2 separate regions of the Homo sapiens genome follow, and region 2 is linked to region 1. The links come from fine-mapping of genetic effects on gene expression. A gene starts in region 1. The other region holds a variant in brackets. All regions are shown on one strand. Distances are between the middles of the regions.

Region 1 (2,904 bases):
AGATGTCAGCTCCTACTAGCACACTTCTATATGCCCCTGCTTCTTTCTTTCTTGTTCACAAATACCAAGGGATAATTTTTTAAAGTTAACATCCGCATGGAAACTTGGAGTTGGAATGTGCCTTGTAGTGAGCAGAGTCCTCAAAAGATGTGCTACTACTGAAAGAGGAAAGGCTAAGAGTTTCCCAAAAGACCTCCCCAAGGTCCAGGGACTGAAGACAGTAATGACTGATTTTAGAATTGAATGCTAAATGGCACATGTCAGGGGAGCGTCTTTCATTTTCCTCTCCTCTCTCTTTACCTCTCCTTCTCACAGTGCATAACGTTGAATATTTTTCTGTGTTGTTTTGTTATGTCCTTAGAGTTTGCATCTTGTGTGTGTACTCTGCTTGCACACTAGATTATGAGCTTCTGAAGGCATGGTCTGTGCCTATTATTTTGCTTCCCTCCATGGCCTGCTTATACCAAGCATGCCTAAATGTCTATTAAGTAAATAGACCCAGATAAATTCATGTTGATATCCTGGAGGAAACCGAGTTTGATTTGAGTGTGGAGTGTGAATTTCATGACAGGTAAAAGGCTTGAAGATCCTTAGGACGCAGTTGTCTATGACCTTGGCCTCTCCTTTGCAATTGGACTCACAGCACCTCTTGGAGAAAAGACAGGCTCAGAGTGATGGAGCGCTCATTAGAGGAGAGGCTCTGAATGCAAAGACAGGCTGCTCCCCTGTCCTCGTTAGGAAATGCACAAACCAGGATAATGATAATAAATGGGTGTGTGTCACAAGCCTACTTGCCTTCCCTTTAGTTCCTGCATTTTGTCTTCCAGGAGCAGTGCAAAGCAAACTAAGATCCAAATGTTCAGGTTTTATTACCTACCCCCCCCCCCCACCACAACCACCCACCCACCCACAGGAAACTCTCAGAAATGCAAAGCATGCTTATCTCTTCTCCAACTCCGAGCCTCCCGCTGCACACATTGGCCAAGTCCTTCCGAGGGAAAGATGCGCACCCCCCCTTCCTAGTTCCCTTTCAGCCCAGTTTCCAGTTCCTTTGCAAAGGCAGGGCGTGCATGTTTTTGTGCACATGCATGTGGATAGTCATCCTTAACTTCACTGTTAAACAGGACATCGTGTGGACAAAAAGTCACAGCTCCACTCCAAGCTCAAGATGCCTTTTGGTCAATAATGGTGACAAAAGCTGAATTTTTCCCTATTTAGGGAAAAGAAAGAACACAGCCTTTTCCCCCACTGTCCGTTTTGCATAGATCTCCTTTTTCCGAGTGTTTCCTCTTTAATTATGACCTGTCTCCCCTCCCTCTCCCCTCGCCTCAGCTTCAGTGAAAGGAGTCCTTCTGTCACTCGTCACTAGCTCGCTCGCTCACTGTGGGAGGAGCCCGCCTGAGGAAGCCGTGTGCCTGGGATGCCAAGAGCCAGAGAATGGATCTTCTCCGAGTGGGGACATTGCTGACAATCCCGGCTTCCCGAGGCGGCTAAGAACAGGCAGTTTGTGTCGGCTGGCTGCAGATACCCAGAGGCACAAAGAGACCGAAGCCACCCGGAGGGACCCACGGACGGACAGATGGTAGGCGCGAACCCGAGAGGACCGGCGGAGGCTGAGCACCGAGAGCCGCCAAGGAAGAGAAACTAACCACAGCCAAGTTACCCCGCCGGCTTTCCTTCGCTGCGCTAAGGAATGAAACCCTTCCAGCTCGATCTGCTCTTCGTCTGCTTCTTCCTCTTCAGTCAAGGTAGGACCCCTGCGCTGCTGGAGTTGGAAGAAAGTCGGCTGGGTTGTCAGGGCGCGGGAGGCTGTGGGCAGGAACGTGGGCAGGCTTCGGGAACTCGGACTGATGGATGCGTCTCTCGGTGCCGGGCTGAGATGCTCTGGCATTGCCTCTTCGCCTTTGCGAATGCAACAAAATGGTACTGTTTATTTTCCTTTGGAAAGAAGGGGTATGGGAGGGGAGGGGAATGACTTTCTCCTCTCACTTGTCAATATCCAGCTCAAACTCTCCAATGCAAATGAGTTCTTTATGCTTCTGGTATGTTAATTAGGTAGTATCTCTGTGGTTATGCCGCTCTGAACTTCTGGGCACCTCCTCTCCTTCAGACCCAGGCCAGGGAAGGAGACGGCAGGGAGGGAGAGCTTGGTTTAGGTGGATATTTCAGCTTGAATAGGGTTTGACTTGCACAAGTGTATTCAAAAGCGAATGTGTGTGGTTTGCACCGTTGAAAAGGGGGTTGCAATTACAGAATGTATTGTGGGGGGTAATTTGCAGTGGTTGGGAAAAGCTTGTAAAGAGTTTCATTGAACGTCATCGAGTTCCCTAAATTAGGTTGAATTCTGAATCCTACACAGCACTGAATTCAGGGTATAAAATGAAATTTCGCCCGTGGTGCTGATGGTTTCCTTTCTGCAGCCTAGCAGGGGCAGAGAAGCAGGTGGACTCTCCGGAAAGAACTTTGCCACCTCTAGGCTCCTTGCCACTGGGAGCCCTGGGGCTGGTAGTGGTGCAGAAAGGAGAGGGAAATTCGGGAGAGGGAATGTGAGTGCCTAGTTGGCCAAAGGCATCAAAAGTCACCTGTGGAATTGAGTTTGGAGGGGCAAGTACATGGGCTCCTTCCCGCTCTTTTGGAATGCCAATGCACCTCTGCCATCTGAGGCTGCATTTGTGCCAGCCAACACAGCTCTTAGAGGTGCAAGACTCAGAAAAAATCCACAACAGAGCACGTCCATCTGTTGATTAAATGAAGGGTAAAAGTTTTCGAGAAAGCAAAGCACTGCCATGGGTGGCTGGCTTTGCAAGCAAACAGCATGTCTTCTGTTTCTCCCCTGTCGGGGAGAAGCCAAATATAAGCAAAAACCTGGCTTCCTTCTTCTGCTCTTCCACCCGTGCTTGTGGT
Region 2 (2,904 bases), 530 kb after region 1:
GAAAGGGATAAGTGCCCACATGCATAGGGCCCTCACCCTCCACTGGGCACCCCCTCCCTGGTCACTCACCCATCACCCTGCACCTATCTGCCCAGCTTAGGGGCCTAGAGTCTCCACTGGGTGTGGCCGAGGCTCATCCTGGCCTTCTCTGTGAAGGGCACCCCTCTGGCCTCTGGCCTCAAGGCTGGATGCAGGGACTGGGGCAAAAAGCACTGCGCATCCTCCACCTGGCCCACACACCCTTATTCAAGCCAGGTGGCAACCAGCCCATGGGGAGCCCCAAGCAGCTATCAAAAGGGGAAGCAGAGCCATGATTTTTTAAAAAAAAAAAAAAAGGGACCCAGCAGGTGGGGAAGGTGAGTAGCGGGGAGAAGCGAGGCGGCCTTGCTGCCAGGCAATCAGGCTACTCTCGGCCTTTCCAGACGGTTTGCCTGTCATCGGGCACCCCATATTTAGCACCAGTGCTTGGGCCCCCACCCCTTGTCTGCCCTCCAGCCCACCCATTTCCGAGAGCTCAGCCTGGCTCTCCACTGCCCAGAGGAGGCCCTGGGGGCTTTGGAAAGAGCAGAGTGGCCAGCCACTGCCACCCAAGCAGGAAAACCATGGGGTGGGGTACACTGTGTACAACCATACCTGGGAAGACCGGCCTCCCAGGCCGGTGCTGGGGAACTAGAGAAGTGAGTGCCAAATCCCTGCCCTTAGGGAGGGGCAGTGGGGGTGGGTGCACAGCCCTGAGGCGGCACCTGAGCAGGCAGCGTCCAGAGAGAACCTGGGGCCCCGCAGAGTCACGGCAGTCAGTGGACAGAGGCCCATGAACACCCAAAGACAAAAACAGGTACGCGCACATACCCACGGGGGTGTATGCCCTGGCACGCTCGTTCCCGGACACATGCTGCACACACGCCATCTATATGCCTGCCCCTGGCCCATATCTGCACACACAGGAGCTGGGTCCTCGGGGACTCTTGGGAGCCACCATGGCAGTCACATGGGCAACCTGGGCGAGCCGGGGGCTGGCAGCACGTTAGTGCTCACCACACTGGAGGGAGGCCTTGGAGGCGGTGGCTCCCACAGTGAGTGGCCCACCATGAATAACTCACTTCCTTCTGGAGCTCACCTGCAAGGCATGAAGCTTTCTGAAGCAGGAGGTGGGAGGTTCAATGCCCATGGTGTGTCCCCAGAGCCAAGCTCAGTGAAGGGAAGCAGGGAAGGGAGGGGCGGAGTGGAGCTGCGACTAGAACCTGCAGATGATAGAATGTTCTCCTGGACAGTACCTTCAAGGCTGCAAAGTCCAGAGGCTCCATTTGCATATGAGAAAAGTGACAATTAGGGGAGATTCATTTCTGAAAAGGAGTGAAGCAAAAGAAACAAGAGAGGCGAGATCAGAAAGGAATGGGGGA[A/G]GAGAAACCCGGGGGTGCAGATCCCCCGTGCCCCTCCACATCCCGCCCTGTCCTGCAGGTGCAGGGCTCCCTCCAGCCTTCCCCCTGGGCCCCCCAGCTCTGTCCCACCTTCCTCCCCTCAGTCGTCCTGCAGCAGAGCTGGCAGACCCAGCCTTCCTCCCTGGGATACCCGCTGCACGGGGCCTGGGGTCCCCCGCGAGCTAGGGGCCCAGGAGGTGCTGGGACCTTCCACGGGGACAGAGAGGGTGTTGGTGCTGGGGCACGTGCCTTCCCCTCACCCTCCTTTTGTTTAATGAACACATCTCCCTTTTTCTCTAATTAGGTGGAACAAACAACTTGAACCAGAATTTTTATTTCCCAGAAAAGCACACGCCTGGACCCAGTAAATATGTCATTAATCATCATTCCGAGGCGGAGGAGCACGCTGGGTGCAGGGAGGAGGGGGAGCAGTCAGAGGGCCTAATTAGAGCTGGGTCCCCTCCCTCCCCTGCCACTGGCACCCACCGCCCAGAGCCCATCCGTTGGAAGGGCTCCTGGCAGAGTCAAGCTTATGTAAATGTCCCTTGTTAGCACAACGGAAATGTAAAGAAGAGAAGAAGAATACCAACCTGCTCCTCACCACCTCCCCGCCCCTGCGCGCCCTACCCGAAGTCTTAGTTTCATCCAGGAAATTGTTCTTATTATCACTTGGCTATTTATAGACTCGATGAGGTCTGCTGAAGAGCCCAAGGCAGGGTGGTAAAGCGGTGCCAGCTGCTGCTCCCTCCCTGCCCGGGCTTTGGCTTGGGGTTCAACTTCACTCCTCTGCAGTGGTCCTGCCCCCGGCTTGCTGCATCTGGCCACGTCACTCTCCTCCAGCCCCTCTGCCCAGGGCCGTGGCTGGCACCCTGAGTCCCAGGCCTGCAGCTGCACCGCGTGGCTCTCTAGAATGTCACAGTCCGGCTTTGCCTCCAGCAAGATGTGCTGTTCTATATAGAGGCTCTGGCCCTGTTCTCCTGACGCCACGAGGTTTGCCCCAAGTTGAGAAAAACCTCACTGAATTAAGGACCCAGAATGTGGGGTTCTAGGAGCTTACAGGTTTCTCCCTGTGGCCCTAACTGTTCCCATCTGTCCTGCCAAGAGCACGGTACCCACCGTCCAGCACCCCCGGGGCTGCAGCAGAGGCTGTGGCTCAGGGTTCACCCATTCTTAAGTGCAAATCCTAGCTCCACCCAGCAAGTTCCCGGCTCACTTGGAACACAGGTTTCTCTTTGGCTAATCAAAGATAATGCTGCTGTCTTCCGGGGCCCTCATAAGAATTAGAGACATTGCCATTGTCACTTTATGGGAGGTTTTGAGGGAGGAGTGGTCTGTTCATCTACTCCCTGGCTCCAGTCGGGGGAAACAGGACTGCACCCATAGTGAGGTTCCTTCCTAGTACCTCCTAGTAGCAGAAGCCTTTGCATACTGACCAGACCCCAATCCCAACCTGGAAGTGCACCCCCACACACACTCAGCACACCCT

The links.
Region 2: its variant is fine-mapped to the expression of KIRREL3 in whole blood (TOPMed, PIP above 0.99).

The regions. Positions count from the first base shown.
Region 1 is chr11:126,999,299-127,002,202 of GRCh38, reverse strand. It overlaps KIRREL3 (kirre like nephrin family adhesion molecule 3), which reads left to right and starts at 1,433. Exons shown (of 17, transcript NM_032531.4): 1 at 1,433-1,748. The coding sequence starts at 1,694.
Region 2 is chr11:126,465,061-126,467,964 of GRCh38, reverse strand. The region is part of intron 5 of KIRREL3 (kirre like nephrin family adhesion molecule 3); the gene reads left to right. Among named protein-coding and RNA genes, the nearest start is that of KIRREL3-AS1, 77 kb to the left of the region's middle. RefSeq lists enhancers at 574-1,121, 1,122-1,671, 2,219-2,278. The variant A/G (reference allele first, on the strand shown) is at 1,401.